2 separate regions of the Homo sapiens genome follow, and region 1 is linked to region 2. Evidence: fine-mapped expression QTL. A gene starts in region 2. The other region holds a variant in brackets. All regions are shown on one strand. Distances are between the middles of the regions. Region 1 holds the start of LOC124901017 (a long non-coding RNA gene). Region 2 holds the start of RASGRF2 (Ras protein specific guanine nucleotide releasing factor 2).

Evidence for each region. PIP is the estimated chance that this variant, and not a neighbour inherited with it, causes the effect.
Region 1: its variant is fine-mapped to the expression of RASGRF2 in whole blood (TOPMed, PIP 0.96).

What each region holds. Positions count from the first base shown.
Region 1 is chr5:81,203,896-81,212,228 of GRCh38, reverse strand. It overlaps RASGRF2 (Ras protein specific guanine nucleotide releasing factor 2), which reads right to left. Exons shown (of 27, transcript NM_006909.3): 20 at 5,324-5,384; 21 at 4,880-4,983; 22 at 3,791-3,875. LOC124901017 (a long non-coding RNA gene) reads left to right here and starts at 1,291. Exons shown (of 2, transcript XR_007058842.1): 1 at 1,291-2,170; 2 at 2,819-6,018. The variant A/G (reference allele first, on the strand shown) is at 4,481.
Region 2 is chr5:80,955,747-80,964,079 of GRCh38, reverse strand. RASGRF2 (Ras protein specific guanine nucleotide releasing factor 2) reads right to left here and starts at 3,717. Exons shown (of 27, transcript NM_006909.3): 1 at 3,054-3,717. The coding sequence starts at 3,341. RASGRF2-AS1 (RASGRF2 antisense RNA 1) reads left to right here and starts at 3,173. Exons shown (of 4, transcript NR_105015.1): 1 at 3,173-3,299. RefSeq lists enhancers at 2,893-3,614, 6,705-7,225.

The sequences.
Region 1 (8,333 bases), 250 kb before region 2:
ACCAACTTTCTAAAGAGACTAAAGTCTATAAGAATAAACTAATGAGCATCTGTTTGTCCTTTGAGTGAACACAGGGGTTATCTGGATTCCCGCTTGTTGAGGGAAGAGATGATTTTGTTCCTCAGCAATTTTGATGGTGTCATTTCTAATAATTACTGAGGAAATGGGACAGAATAACCTAACGCCTGCGGAAAGGCAATGTCTGTAGATCATGGATGTCACTCCCTGGGGCCTTTCCCTTTACTCCTTGGCCCCCAACAGTGTGTGATTACTCACTCTGAGAAGCCACAGTTATCACAGAGAAAGAAAAAAACACTTGCCCCCAGTTAGATCAAATTCTGAGCTGATTAACTCTCAAACCAGAATCACTTGGCTGCAAGGAAAAGAACATTTTCTTCATCTTATTCTTCACCAGCAGTTAAAAGGACCTATAGTTTTGAGGCTAAGTACCGTAATTTTATTACTTAAAGCCAGTTTAAGAAGCTCAGCTCTTGTAATATGGAGAGGAAAAAAAAAGTGAAATGAGATTACCGTATTAACAAAGGGAATATAGGGCGTGTAATCTTATATCCATACACCAAGTCTGATGGATTCACCCATTCTTTGATGATTCTGAAGACACTTAAGATCTCATAGTGCCTCAACACCATCACTGTGGAAATTCGCTAAAGCACCTACTGCAGTGCTGTTCACTGAGTGCCTGCGCATCCTTAGCGTGAGGAGAGGAATTATTTGGAATCCAGTTTGTCCTGGGAAGAAGTGGTTTTGTTAATCAGTAATTTCGATGAAGAAGTTCTTGCCAATAACTATTGAGGAAATGGGATAGAATAGATTCTTTTAGGTGCTGGGAACAGAAAGACAAATAAATCCATCCCTGACCTTAAGGCAATCTGAGCCTAGGTAGGTGGGAAGGGGAGGGTCGCAGATACATAAACAGGTAAATGCCATGCAGCGAAACACAAAGTTGAGTCTATTCACGGTGGGGTTTGGGAATACACAGGCAGCATGGGGCATCTGGTCTAGTACAGAGGAGGCTTCTAGGAAGAGGTCACGCCTGCACTGAGTCTTTTTTTTTTTTTTTTCTGGAGACAGGATCTTGCTCTATTGCCCCAGGTGGAATACAGTGGCATGATTACAGCTCACCGGAGCCTCGATGTCCAGGGCTCAAGCGATCCTCTCACCTCAGCCTCCCAAGTAGCTGGGACCACAGGTGTGCACTACCATGCCTGGCTAATTTTTTGTATTTATAAAGACAGGGTCTCACTATGTTGCCCAGGCTGGTCTTGAACTCCTGGGCTAAAGCAATCCTCCCAGCTCGGCCTCCCAAAGTGCTGGGATTACAGGTGTGAGCTACAGTCTCCAGCCTTGCATTGAGTCTTAAAGGATCTAAGTATGAGAGCAAGGGGACAGAGGTGGGAGGGATGGTGTAATGGAGGACCTGGCAGCCATCTGAGGGGCACAAGGACTGGGAGAGGCAAGGGTGACAGATGGGCTGTGCTCTTGTATGACAGGTTGGGACCATATCCCTAAGGTAAGGGGAAGCCACTGACAGATTTTTGTCAAAGGGAGGTAGATAATTAGATTGACCTTTCAGAGAAGTCATTCCTGTGCCACTGCATGCAGGATGGTTTAAGGTACATGGCTGTGCTTTGGTCTAGGATAGGCCAAGGTGGACATCCGGGCCAGAGGGACTCAGTGAGTTTAGAGCACAGGTGTATAACTCCACTTGTGATCACAGCCATGTAGCCATAACACGGAAGGCCATCACTTGGCTCTAAGCCACTATTGTCTGTAAAAGGTATAATTGCCCTGTTGACACTGTACAGGAGCTCATGCCCAGAGAAAGAGTTAAGCTGCTGACCCTGAAGGCAAGTGAGAGCTGGCCACACAGCTGTGCGCGGGAGCGACTGGCTCAAGCAGCTGAGACAGAAGAGACAGCGTAAGAGAGCTGCTGATGAAAGAGCTGCTAATGAGACAGCTGCTGATGAGAGCGCCCGCTGAACAAAATCATCTTTCACCTACCTACGGCCCCCTACGTGTTCTTTCAGGCATCCACCCACTCCCCTCAGACCTCAGCATGGGCTGGAACCTGACTCTGAACCTAACAGATGGATTGGAGGGCAGTGAGGTTGCAGGGGAGAGATGAGTCAGGAGCTCCTGGAGAGACAAGGTAAAAGGCCACATCAAGGTGGTGGCAGCGGGGAAGGCAGGGTGGGGAAGAGCCTGAGATATATGTAGATTTAGAGTTTGCAAATATGTTGGGCAGTGGTAAGGGTGAGCTGGTAAGGGAGAAGATGACGTCTAGATCCTGTGCTTGGGTGAGTGAGTGTATGGTGAGGCCACTACCCAAGACTGAGAACAGAGAGGACAATGAAGAAGCAGGCTTGGCGGCTCTGGGGTGCAGATGAAAGGTTCCATCTGTAATTGTCAAGAATGCAATGTAGCAGTCGTCCCAGCAGAGGAGACATGTGGGTCTGGAGCCTGGGATCGAACCTCTCTTTGAGTGTCCATTATATCCCCTGTGTTGGTTCACCACAGGTAACAGAGGTTTGCTTCCCACAGCAGGGAATCTGTTTCTCAGGGCAGGCACTAGATGGGCCATGCCCTTGTCCTTTAGGCAGCAGCGGCACTGAAGCTCATTGTGTGGTAGCATTCACACAGCATCCACGTGCTTTGGGGAAAGCCTGCATGAAACACTGTCTTGGGAATCTAAACTGTCATTTTTGCATTTTGATTCTAGATCACTTATTAATTTACCTATGGGGTTCCTGGTAGTTTGTTGTTGTTGTTTTTAAAATCGTTATTCCTTTTACTATAGTTTAGTGAAACTGGAAGGGGAGGCTTCCCGTTGCCTGGATAGGCCAGAAGACACTCCCACACCTGTTACTTGTTCTACCACAGGACTAAGACTATGAGAACAGCACTAAGGAAGAGCGGGGAGGTATAAAAGCATCTCCCAATCTTACCGCTGGGGAAAAGCAGAGCTGTAAGATGGACTGACAGCTGGCCACTGCTGCACAGAACTATAGCAACAATGTGATTATGCTCCAAGAGGCCCCTTCCAACCCTGGAATGTAATTCAGGCTGAACGTTCAGTAATGATGAGGACTTGCACCAACCCAGCCTTACCGTGACCAACACCACCAGGGGCCAGTGACACATGTACTGCTCACTCTGTTAGTCAATATATGAACAGGAAGTAGTGATAATCATGATAAAAATAGGATCAGCAACCTGTACATTATTGAGCACTGGGTACCATCAAAGGTGAACCTTTTATGTCAGGAAGTTAATTGGACATTATTACATTACTGTGAGCTCTTAGAGATTTAAGCTTGTCGTCAATATCCCATCAATTCTGTTTAAAAGTGGGTGGCAGGCCAGGTGCGGTGGCTCACGCCTGTAATCCCAACACTTTGGGAGGCTGAGGCAGGCAGATTGCCTGAGGTCAGGAGTTCGAGACCAGTCTGGCCGACATGGTGAAACCCCTTTACTAAAAATACAAAAATATTAGCCAGGCATGATGGCATGCACCTGTAATCCCAGCTACTCGGGAGGCTGAGGCAGGGGAATTGCTTGAACCAGGGAGGTGGAGGTTGCAGTGAGCTGAGATCACGCCATTGCACTCCAGCCTGGGCGACAGAGCGAGACTCTGTCTCAAAAAAAAAAAAAAAAAAAAAAAAAAAAAAAAAAAGTGGGTGACAGAGTTGCTTTGTTTTAGAGGAGTCTTTAGACCCCAATATCCATCTTCTTGTGACACGCCCACGGTTTTACTGTTACGGTTACTCACGTCATTGAAGTGTTGGCTGGTTTTCATAATGTAAGGAGTTCTTTCGTTTTTATCCAGCTTCATCCACCCCTGCCCAAGAAACTCCCTGGAAGTTCAAAACAAAACACAAAACCAATTAAGTTTTTAAAAATATGGTGGCTATGATCCTGGACAGTTGTCACGAATATTAGAAAAATTCCATTTGACATGGCCTAGAATGGTTCCTGACACCTGCTGCTGCCAGCCTCACAAGTGAATTTTACCTCGGCTGTTGCAGTTTACCTCTCAATGCCAAAAAGGAAGATTCTTCAGCTTCCAGCTTTCTCTTATAAATGTTTGGAACTGTGTCCCTATTAGGATCCTATAAAGCCTTCTCTGAAGTTGGAAAACAAGAACCAACACAAGGGAAATAAAGAGGTTAAGTACTACCTTAGAAATCAAGACTATTTTCCCAGGATTAGCTTTTAAAAACATTAAGCCTTAGCAGAGGGTCCAAAAATTTCATCACTACCAAAAATGTTAGTCAGAAGCAGAATTTTCTCCCTCCACTCTGCGCTGCCTGCCATTCTCCTGGAGGATGCAGATTTCAAAGGCAGGGATTGCGTTTTGTTCTCCCCAGCGCTCAGGAGGGCGCAGGTGGTCAGGGCTGAAAAGCGCTCCTTTTAGGCTTGTACCGCATGTTGCCCTGACCAGGCAGTTCAGCGGGGCAGA[A/G]GCTCCACCTGGTCAGATGGGCTGTCTTCAGGGCAGCATTCCTGATCATTCACTTCATTCCTGAGCAGGTCACCAGACACAGCAAGAAACAAGGGACAAGTGAGATGCAGCATACAGGAATTATTTTGTATAGTCATTAAAAACACTCGAAATTACTCTGATACTCAGGTTGACTAAGTCCCTGGGCAGGGTTCTTTGTCCCTTGCTGTTGTTGGTCCTGCTCCCATCCTGCAGAGTGCTGGACACAGAGGCGTGCCAGTTCCATGGATGGAAACAACTGGTAGATACTCACACAGGAACTGAGGGGACAGACATACACACAACCTGCCTTAGGAATAATGTCAACTTCTAAGACAGCTAGAGCAGCCGAGCCCTGCTGCTGTGGGGGGTGGCACTCACTCGTAGGGAATGCTTCTGAAAATGACATGGTCCAGGAGGGTGATCTGTTCTGCCAGCTCCATGGCCGACAAGGACTCAAAGCATTCGGCCTTCATGCAGTCAGTCTGCAAGAGATGAGGGAGGGAAATGAAACACCCAGGAGAGGGCGCCTGCCATCTCATTGCAGGTCAGTGAGGCAGACAGCTGCATGTGTGGAAGCATGAAGTTCACCACTAAATTCTAACTATGAAAAAAATGGCAGAAAGCTAAAAGTATCAAAGCCAACATGAATATCTTAGACCAACTGCTAGACCCCACACCAAATGTGGTTCATCTCACAGAGCTTCACAGATAGGACAGAGGGCCTAATACTACAACACTCCTTGATCGGTTACAAGCATATTGCTCGCCTTGGAGAGGTAGTTTGCACATAGTTGTGCTAGATAAAAATGTGGTCAGACTTACCATTTGAATTATATCCTCTAATTTTAGGTGGATGTCATCTTGGTCATCTTGTGAAAGGGCCCTGAAAAAGATATCAAATTATCCTCCATGAAAGAAAAAATAGACAACCTAGGAACAAAACTACAAATGCAGTTTGGTTTTCCCTGGATGGGAGGTCTGAGGATTTGGGTCTACAAGGCCATGCAGCACAACCAACTGCTGAGCTGGAGATGAGCAATCCCCAAACAGAAAACATGCTCAAGGCATGAGAGAATCATCAGGACAGCTGATTTAGAACAAAAAGGCAACCTGTTACATACAAGGTTGTAAATGAAACAACCACCGTCACAGTGAGTCTGAGGGTGAGCTGGGTGAGCTCTGAGTTACCATCCATAATGTAAAATGGAGCATCCTCTAATGCTATCAGCCAGTTGGACTCCTAGGCCTGAGTGCCCTCCTCCCCACACCTCTATCCCCTACCGTGGGCTTTCCCTGCCCTCACAGAGGCAGGAGACGCAGGGCCACCCCTTTCTCAAGCTTACGTAGACCAGAAGCACAGGGGGTTCCTATGTGGCAAGACTCTGAACAATGCCAGGCAGGAGCCAGCAGATAGCTTCTTCCCCCTTGCATTCCAGATGGACTTTCCTCAGACACTTTTGGCCCTGAATCTCATACATGTTATTCAGCTCTCAATAAATATCTTTTAAAAAAATAAATGATGAATGAATGAATGAGTGAATGAATAAACACAAGTTAATACCTTAAATACTGGTTTCAGAGTAGAGGGTATTTTTGTGCAACAGACGTTCAGAGTCCAGGAAAACTGGAGTCCAGTAGGCATCCAATTACATAATTTGCCATTGGAGCCAGGCATTTTATGTTTTCCAAAAGGAAGGCACAAGCACATACTCAAAGCATTAAAATAGTAGGAGGGCAGATCATGAGGTCAGGAGATCGAGACCATCCTGGCTAACACGGTGAAACCCTGCCTCTACTAAAAATACAAAAAATTAGCTGGGCAGGTGGCGGGCACTTGTAGTCCCAGCTACTCGGGAGGCTGAGGCAGGAGAATGGCGTGAACCAAGGAGGCAGAGCTTGCAGTGAGCCGAGATAGCGCCACTGCACTCCAGCCTGGGCGACAGAGCAAGACTCAAGTCTCAAAAATAAATAAATAAAATAAAACAAAATAAAATAGTTAAACGGTCCCAAACCATGTACTCTGCTGGAGGAAGCTACTTTTAGTAAAAGGCGAAAGATTTATGCGATATGAAGAGAAACTAGAGTAAGAGGAAGCTACTTTTAAAAGAAGTAATGATGATGTGATGTTCTGTTGTGTTCTGAGTTGATTAAAACAACAGCCACAACCCTCAAAAACATAATATCAACAGAGATGGCTTCCTGTATGCCCGCTCTATGCCAGGCATGTGCTAAACATTTGACATGCACTATCTCCTGTATCCTAACAGATCCCTTCCAAGGGATTGTTATACAGGACAGCAGATAATGCAGGCATTGTGATCTCCGTTTTACAGATAAGGAAACAAAAGCTCAAAGACACTGACTAAGTTGCTCAGGGTTGTGGGCCCTTCCTTTACTCTGCGCTTCTCTTAAGCAGGCTCAGGGAAGGCACCTCTTCAAGGGTCCCACACACAGCACACAGTCAATAAACACAACTCCCTTCCCTCGGCTGTCTGAAGGGGGAGCAGGAGCCTTCTAGATTATACTAGTAGCAGCCCTCTTATCGGCACTTAGCCATATTATTTGTGAGTAGAAAGAAATAGTCATTTTATCTTAAAGGGCAGATTAAGATGAGGAAAAAATAAGTTAAAGCTAACTCTTTCTCCAAAGCCTATTAAATTACATGTAAGGGTTACACATGGGAGATAAAAGTGACTTTTCCGAAAGTGCACATCATCTTTTCCACCATTCTAGGTTCCTGGAGAGAGATCTGTGGCTCCATAATTATGTGTACCAGTGGGAAAGATCTTTTTATGAAGCTGGGTAATATCTTTCCCTTGGAAAGAAAAAGTCAAAAAGTTAGTTAGCTCCCATCAAATGTTCCTCTTCTCAATGATCTTACCCTCATTTTCCAAGAGGCACTCTGGTGCCATTAAGTTACCTAACATTTTATGCCTTCCTGTTGATGCTATGTGGGGTTTGAGGATGACTTTTCTATGACCTGAGCCCATCACAGTTGAACATCCAAGAAGTTAATCACTATTTCTTTTTATTTTGTGGCATGTTGGGTATCTAGAAAAACTCTACACTGAATAGATTTTGAAGACAGCTAGTTAGACAACTTTGGAGGAGGAGAGATGGTATTTTAGAAATATAAGTTTTGAGTACAGGTTTTTATTTACAAACAGGGCAACAAACTATATATGGCAATTAAGTGTATTCATCATACACTTAATTGTGACCCCTGTGAGACTGTGAGTCAGGGAGGCTTCATTCAAAAGAGCATTTGCTTTATTGCATTAATGTAACCTATGCATGAAAACATGTTTTATGTTCATATCTCTTAGATGTCAGGAATGCATATAAATCTCTAAATGTCAGGGCTGCACTTAACCACCATATGATATGTTTTTTATCTCTCACAGTCATAGCCTGTGTTTTCTAGAGGGCATGGTTCAGAATTCTTTCCCTTCAGATGTGGAGGCCTCTGCACTTCTGGTTCAGTTCCAATAGAGAAAAGATTTGCTTCTAGTCTTCTGGCGATGCTTGGGCATTGATGAACATTCCAGGATCCTGGGTTCCCCACCACCATCACTACCACGTCTATCAGCAGTATCACCAGTTTAATAATTGTGCATTTATAATGACACACCAAATAAAAGGAAATGGGATTATCCAAGCTGTATGAATAGAAAATTCCTCTTTCAATTAGGGTAGTCCAAAAACAGAGCCACAAGCAACCAGTGTCTGTCCTGGGATTGGTCCACACTGTCTTTGTGTGGAAAAGGTGACGAAGCCTAAAGAAAGTTGAGTTGACTAAGATCCAGCCTGGTTTCACTTGGGCCATATGGCC
Region 2 (8,333 bases):
TAAGCATATTTGGAAAGTGACTTTCTTTTTTCTGCTTAACTGGAAACAATTTAAGTCCAAGTGTAAAAAAAAAAAAAAAACGGATTTTTTTGTTGTTGTCAACCAACTTATTTTGAATTGTTATTTACAGGAAGCAAACCAATGGGTGTTTTCTTCTTGTAACTTACCTAAAAACACAACTAATAAGCATAAAAATCATTGAAGGATATGTGGACTTTAAGCTCCCAAGAATGCTTAGAGGCAGTTTATAGCAATAATTACATCAACTATTGTAACTGTCAAGGGGATTACAATAAATATGTCGCCCTCCAATGTGAGTAATAAGAATGTCTCTGCCTCAGGCAATGATGTTACTATAGGTTTGCACATCTGCTGACCTAACTAATTTATCAGAATGTCCACTTCAATCACCTGCTTGTCCTCGGCTTTTCAGATGCAGTATTTATTACAAACACTGGTAATCTCTGAATCTTGTGAAATGGTCTTTCACATTCTCCACACTGCAAAAAGCTCACCCTGTCTGTCATAACCTTAGAAATAGAAGATGCCATTATTGAAAGGTAATTGGAAACCAACTTAGCCAAATTCTTAATTTTTACATATTAGGAAACAGAGATTTCATTAACAGAAAAAAAGAGAAAAGATTAAGAGATGTGCTTAAAGAAATAACACGGAAACTTGGTGAAGAAAAATGACTCTGCCTCACTAAGTCCTGTTTCAAGCCCTAACCTTCAACTGTGTTGATAGTGTTGAGGGAGATATTGATATGGAAAGCTCCAGAAGCATATAAGGAGAAAGAAGCAAACCTTGGGATGTGCTCATCTCCTCACATCCTCCACAGATCCTTCGTGTCTCAGTGTCTGGATGATCTAAGCACCTCAGCAACATAAATTAGCTGAGAGGTAACCAACTGGATAAACTGTAGATTTAAGGTAGAATGTTTCTCCTTGTTTCTTATTTTCACAGTTTCTTCTTAATTATTCAAACACACCCAGTTGGCAGTGCCAGAGAAAAGCATCAGTGGGCTAAGCTAACCCAACTCACAGCAGCACATCTAATGCAAGACAAAATGTGGAAGGTTTCCCAGCCCAACTCCTAATCCATTCTGGAATGCTTGCTTCTCTACATCTCAGATTTATCTACAAACACCAAAGATTCTAATTTCTAACCTCTTGAAGATGAATAAAATGACTGAGAAATACTCATCATTTGCATGGTCATAAAAAGGGAAAACAATTTTTTCATTAGATGGCCTATTTAGGACAACCATTAGAAAGTGGCATGAAAGTCAAACTATTTGGAAGTTATGTTTCCTTATTAAAGTGCAAGAAAGAAAACAGTCTTGAAGATTACAGTCCAGATATTTTCCAAGTAGAAAAATGTTGGTTTCCATATAACATTAGCAAGTCAGAGAGCCATATGAATTGTAACAGGTAACAACTCCCCACCCCTAACTGAAAAAAAAAAAATCAAAAGTGGTTATCTTATATTAATATAAATATGAAGAAAACAAATAATTTGAGATTAAGTAAATGATATATATCCTGAGTAATTTAAAATACCCTATTCTACTTTAGACATAATAACATTTAGAAACCTATTCATTTTGGTTCCTGCGGGGCCTTGGAACACATACCTTAAAAAAAATCCCACCAATAGAATGTTACTTATATATATTCCTGAAAAAAAATGTTTCCTCAAAACTCTTCTCCCAATTTAAATTCTAAAATGCATGACTTGAAATTTATGTTTATATTTCTAGTATCTATATCTATAAAGTTGGAAATCAGTTTTTCAAATGACTCTGAACAAGCCCTCAGAAACTAAAGAGCATATTTAAACTTTCAGATTTATAAGTGTTATAACAAGTTTAATCACTTAAGTCTGTTAATGATTTATAGTGAAAACAACTCAAACTTCCGGTCGGTCTAGTTTTAACTCCTCTTAATTTTACACATTGTTTTATGAGCCCCAAAGGGTTAGGTAGGCATCTTACGGATCACTCCATTGCTAGCACCTCCCACAGCCTCTGTGGTGTGCGGTAGATGCTGTCTGATCTGAACTCACATGGAAAATTCAGCTGCGAATATTTTTACGCAACAGCAAAAACAATCAGCCTTTTTCATATCAAGGTGGGGATTGAGAAGCTAAATGAGAACATTAGGGGCATAAAATTAGTCTGCTTTAACTTTAATAACCAAACGGTGATTGGAAACATACAAACTTTGTGTTTGCAGGAATGAGGGGCTGGGATCACTAAGACTTAAAGGGTTTTTCTCCCCCACCCCGCGACCATGAGCACACAGCAAAACTAATAAAATTATGACCCAGAATTAAAAGGTCGCATTCATTTTCAAAGCATTCATTTAAAAGTACAGAAGCGTTCTTTAAAAATGCCCACATTTTTAAACATAGCAAGAATGTGGCTACCAAATATTAATCCTGAGGAATATGAATACACATTTACCTTCATAATTACACCCAGCAGGTCAAATGTTAGCAAGGCCAACTGACCGAAATCACAAAGACTGATTGAAAATGACCAACAGAAAGTGTCTGTCCGGCTTGGGAGCCCCGCTTGTTCCCAGCCCAACCAGTGGTCAAACATCTGCAGGCAAAGAAATCTACACGCGCCAGCCGGGTATGGCAGAAATCAAACTTTTCCAAATAAGTTAGTTCCGTCTTGCCAATCTACACCCAACAGGTGTCAATACATGTCACCAGACAAAAATCTGGCGAGCCAGGTCTAGAGAAGCAATAGATGGTTGGCAGAGAAGCTGAAACGACTCGACCTCTACCAGGGTAATGAAAGCAAGTCGGGCCACTATTCTGACTGATCACTTGGCAGTGGGGTGGAGGGGTATGGAGATGGGAGAATCCCTGGATGAAGATCGGAAGGAGCGTGGAGATGTCCCGCCACTGGTGACGCGGGGGGATTTCGGAGCATAGTCCCCGCACTCTTTCACGACCCCCGACCCCTGATCCCCGGATTAGGACGGCAAGGGAGTGCGGCGATCAAGGCTGGGAGACCGCGGAGAGAAGGCGCGCGGTACCTGCTTGTCCAGCGCGTCTCGGACGCCTCCCTGCCCGGCGCCGGCCCTGGGTGGCGCGGGCGTTCGTTCGCAGCTGCAGCCCTCCAGGAGGTACATGCCCGCCGGGCGGCAGCTCTGCTCGCCCTCGAAGTAGAAGAGCACATTCTGGTAGAGGGCGAACCACTTCTCGTGCCAGCGGCTCGCCTCGGCCGTCTTCTTACTCAGGAAGCCGCGCTTGGTGCCCTCCTTGCGCGCCAGAAAGGCCAGGTACAGGGCGTGCCCCTCGTTGTAGCGCACGCTCTTCTGCATGGTGCGGGTGCGGAGGGCTCACGGGTGGCCGCCGGTCTCACCCCTGCCTCGCGGCCATGGCCCAGCTGGCTCCCTCGAGGGCGCGACCGCTCAGGTCCCGGCCGGCGAAGGGCGCCCCCTTTCCCCACGCCGCGCGCAGGGCACCCCGCCCGCTTTCGGGAGGCCGCGGCGCGCGGTGGCAGGGGCGCGGGCTGGGGCCGAGGCACGCTCTCCGCCCTAACCACCACCCTCCCGGCCGAGCCCCCGGAGCCCCCCAAGCCCCCAACGCCCGCGTGGAGCGCGGCCCCGCGAGGGCGCCCGAGCCGGCCGCCGCTTCGCCCAAAGTTGCGGGAGCCGAGCCCCCGCGGCGGGCTGGGGCGGCAGCCGGGGAAGGACTGTCCTCGGGCAACGCGCTCCGGGAGACAGAAGGTAAAACGTCACGTGGGAGCTCAGCTGTAATCGGCTTGGAGACCGATTTAAAGGGCAAAGTCGGCGCGGCGCCGGCGGTGGCGCAGCCCGCTTGCCCCGGCTCGCGTCCCTCCCTCGCCCGCCCCGGCCCGGGCCGCTGCCTCTGCTCGGGCGCCCGCCGGGATGGGGCGGATCAGGGAGGTGGAGGCGCCCGGCCGCACCACACACCCGCTCACACGCGCTCGCACACTCGCGCACAACGCGCGCACACACACACGCACACCCACACACACGCAGACCAGTACATTCACCCAGATCCACAATGCACACACTCAGACGCACAAAAATACACTCACAAATGCACACAAACACAATGCGCGCACATATGCACAAAAACACACGCGCACACACTCATGACACACAAATACACATTCTCACAACGCTCACACTCAACACACAGTCACAACGCACAAATGCATATAGACAAATACACCCACAATGTGCGTTCCCGCGCACAAAAATAAAACCCACATTCAGATACACACTTAAGGAGCTACACACATGCACGCAGTGATATGCTCACTTACACACACATTCACACACAACCCACACATTCACTCAAACCCACATTCAAACATACATTCATACACACATTACACTCATACAGTCACACAAACAGCACACATATACTCACACGTTCACAATCATACAGACTCATAAGCAGATAATCAAACACACACACAGATGAACACACATGTACATTCACAAATTCATCCAAAAATACACACAAAGCACTCACACACGTATTCGCACGAATCCACACACTTTCACAAACCCACTCACACATACACACACACTCACATGCCACATCCATAAGTACGTTCCCATGGCAGTAGGTAGAGTCACAGAGTGGCTTTGCATAGCCCGCATCCTTGGCTTTTCTGCTTGTACCTGCATTGTAGTATTTAAAACTGCCGGTAAAGGTTAAGGAGAGTGGCCCAAGTGTTCCCGGAAAGGCATCAGATGCCGAAGTTCTTTCGGAATGCCTGTTATTTCACAGTGGTAAGATGCTAAATTTTAAGTGCCGAGTTTTCAACCTGGAAAAAAATACCCAAATAAGGGACACTTTGCTGCCCAGGGCAGAATCCAACCCCAAAGGCCAGCTGTCACAGGCTCATCGTTTGTAGGACTGGATTCATTTGATTAACAAATCTGACAGGTACAACCAGAAAACCAAGAGCCACCCCCCCGCCCCAACCCCATGCTGTAAAAATGTAAGTGGAAAAGAAATAATGTAGCCAGCAGCTGTGAGAGAAAGCCAGTGAAACCCCCGGGGAGGGCCTATATTTGATTCTGCTATACACATTTTTTATTTTCCCCAGTCATTTATCACTAAAACGGAGTGCCATCATAAAATGTTTATTGTTAAAAGTAAATAATAATGCTTTTCTGGGTGATGAGTCTACGACAATACACCTGTCTTGTACTGCCAGTTGTGTGTTCATGAATTGGTAGCCCCAGGGGTTCTGCCTGTTTCATAAGTGCTGTTTCTGCAGAATATTTTAACTCTGCCTCACTGAGCAGCTGAGTGGGGTTTTTTTTTCCTTTTACCTTTTTAAAAAATTTTCACTTTTAACAAGTATATAGTAGGGAAATTGCCATTTTGAAATTACAGCGTGAGAACAGTGGTCATTTCTCTTTACGTTTTTAAAAATATCTAAAGGACAGTGCTGTGCTAAATTGGGTTTAACCCAGCTGGAAGTTTGCATTGTTCTTCAGAGAAGACACAAGTACAGAGACAGTAAGTAAATGCAGGCAACATTTTGGAGCCAGATTCTAGATGCAGAGGAGCTGGTGATTGCCTCAGGAGGCCTTTTATTTCTTTCTCTGTGGTCCAATCCCAGCTGTGAGAACCGTAAGTGAGTAGACACCTGTGTGGTTGATAAGCTCCATTTTTTTAGTAGAAACCAGTAAGAGTGTGAAATCAGCACAAAAACTATTTTGCCATGAGTAGTCAAACCTTCTAACGCACTTGAGTTTTTTCAGATGTGAAAGATTCTCTTCTTCAATAAGCAATGTCTCAGTTACCATCTCTGTCTCCTTAAATGTGCTTTTCATTTGAACCACATGAAATATTCACAACCTCTTGTCTGACATCACTTCCTACCACGGAAGGTTATGTGGCCCTTATATGCCACCCCATCTGCTCTGCCCCTGGACAATGAGAGAAAGGAGTGCTTGTTTCCTGCAAAATTTGGCTGGTGATTACCGTGGGTTTTGATTATGGAAATTCACTGCAAGAACCATTTATTGATCACTAGTTTATGTCCTCAACACTATATTTAGGTGATGTAGAGCATATAGAGAAAAAGCATTGCCTGTGTTCCTGGTGTGCTCAGTGTAAGAGGAAGAGAATTTCTTTCTTTCTTCTTTTCTTTCCCTTCCTCCCTCCCTCTCTCTCTCTCTCTCTCTCTCTCTCTCTCTCTCTGTCTCTTTCTCTCTCTCTTTCTTTCTTTTTTTCTTTAGAGAGAGGTTCTTCCTCTGTTGCCCAGGCTGAAGTCATAGCTCACTGCAGCCTCAAACTCCTGGGCTCCAGCAATCCTCCTGCCTCAGCCTCCAGCGTAGCTAAGACTATGGGTGTGCACTACCACACCTGGTTAGGTTTTGTTTACTTTTTGTAGAGACAGAGGTCTCACCATGTTACCCAGGCTGGTCTCAAACTCCTGGTCTCAAGTAACCCTCCTGCCTTGGCCTCCCAAAGTCCTGGGATTGTAAGTACGACACCACCCAGCCAGGAAGAAGATTAATGTTTAGGTGCTTCTTCTCACCTGTCTGTTTCTCAAGTGCCGAGCTATCTCTGTAATCCCTGTAGCACCCAGTAGGAGAGTTTATATGCAGTAGGCATACAAGTTTTTCAGACAATTATTTTCTAAATTAATTTCTTATTTGGTCATTGAATTGTTAAAGAGGGCATAAGCATTTGCAAATATTAGATCATTCTGCAAGATTGTAAGAGATGAAAACAACCAGACATTCCTGGACAGCCTAGAGAAGCTATCTCTATTAGGTGTCTGATGGGCACCTGGGGGCCTTTAGTCTCCATTCATATGGAAACCACATCCCTGGAATGGTGCCATCCTGAAACACAAAGGATCAGGAGTTTATGTAAATAAGAATGCTTTCCCCCAGCTGATCAAATAGATTGCCAAAAAGAGACTGCGTTCCAAGTGGATGGGAACAAGCTTCTCTGAATTCATTGTTTTTCCTTCTTGCATTGCGTGGATTCTTTCTTGAGCGGGCCAGTTTAAAAAAATTTTTTATGGGCAACAAAGCATATGATCACAGTGCAAGTGGCCTCTTTCCCCTTTTCTAGATAAGTTAAGAGGGGAAAAATAGCAATGAGCTGTCATACCTGGAAACTCTACTAAATAGAGAGGGAGACATTATTCAGATAATTTGATGAGAAAAGGAAGGAAGGGAGGGAAGGAGGGAAAGAGGAAAGAAAGGACGGAAGGAGGGAGGAAGGAAAGGTGGGAGGGGAAATTTTATCTGAATTGTCTAAAGCTTTGAAGTTTAGGGGAGTGGGGAGTGCACAACCTAACCTACAGCTTTTCAAAATCCCTAACTCATGCCTTAGTATTCAGATGCACAAGGTAGGTTTTAATTTTTTTTTTCTTTCTCCTAAACTCTGTTTTGTTAGTAAAATGTACATGGGCTGCATGAGTTTCTGCAAGGACTTTTCCCTGTGGTTTCTATAATTCAGAAATGCATCCGCACTGGGTTCTTGGAGGAAGATTATGTCAAGCAAAGCTGTCAGAGGCATTTGAACCAAAGCAACTCCATCTTAAATAGGAGCCGGGTAAAATGAGGCTGAAACCTACTGGGCTGCATTCCCAGACGGTTAAGGCATTCTAAGTCACGGGATGAGATAGGAGGTCAGCACAAAATACAGGTCACAAAGACCTTGCTGGTAAAACAGCTTGCAGTAAAGGAGCCACCAAAACCAAAATGGCAACGAGAGTGACTTTGGTCGTCCTCACTGCTACGCTCCCACCAGCACCATGACAGTTTACAAATGCCATGGCAATGTCAGGAAGTTACCCAGTGTGGTCTAAAAAGGGGAGGCATAAATAATCCACCCCTTGTTTAGCGTGTCATCAAAAAATAACCATAAAAATGGGCAACTAGCAGCCCTCGGGACTGCTCCGTCTATGGAGTAGCCATTCTTTTATTCCTTTATTTTCTTAAACTTGCTTTCACTTTGCACTTCGGACTCGCCCTGAATTCTTTCTTGTGAGAGATCCAAGAATCCTTTCTTGGGGTCTGGATTGGGACCGCTTTCCTGTAACAAAGCCACAGTATTGCCAAGATCCTTTTCTTAGCCTGACAGAAGATCACTTGGGGAATTGTCATTTTGATGGCTTGTAGATGTGGAGAATAATATATTTAATAATGCAGACTCACCAAGAATCCCAGACTGTTTCTACAGGATAGAGTGCTACCAGTTCTGGCACATATGTGATTCTGTATCATCTCTTGATACTTAATTAGTAAAGCCAGGTTCTTCCCCAAGTAGGTAAAACCCAAAAGGATTATTCCTTCCTT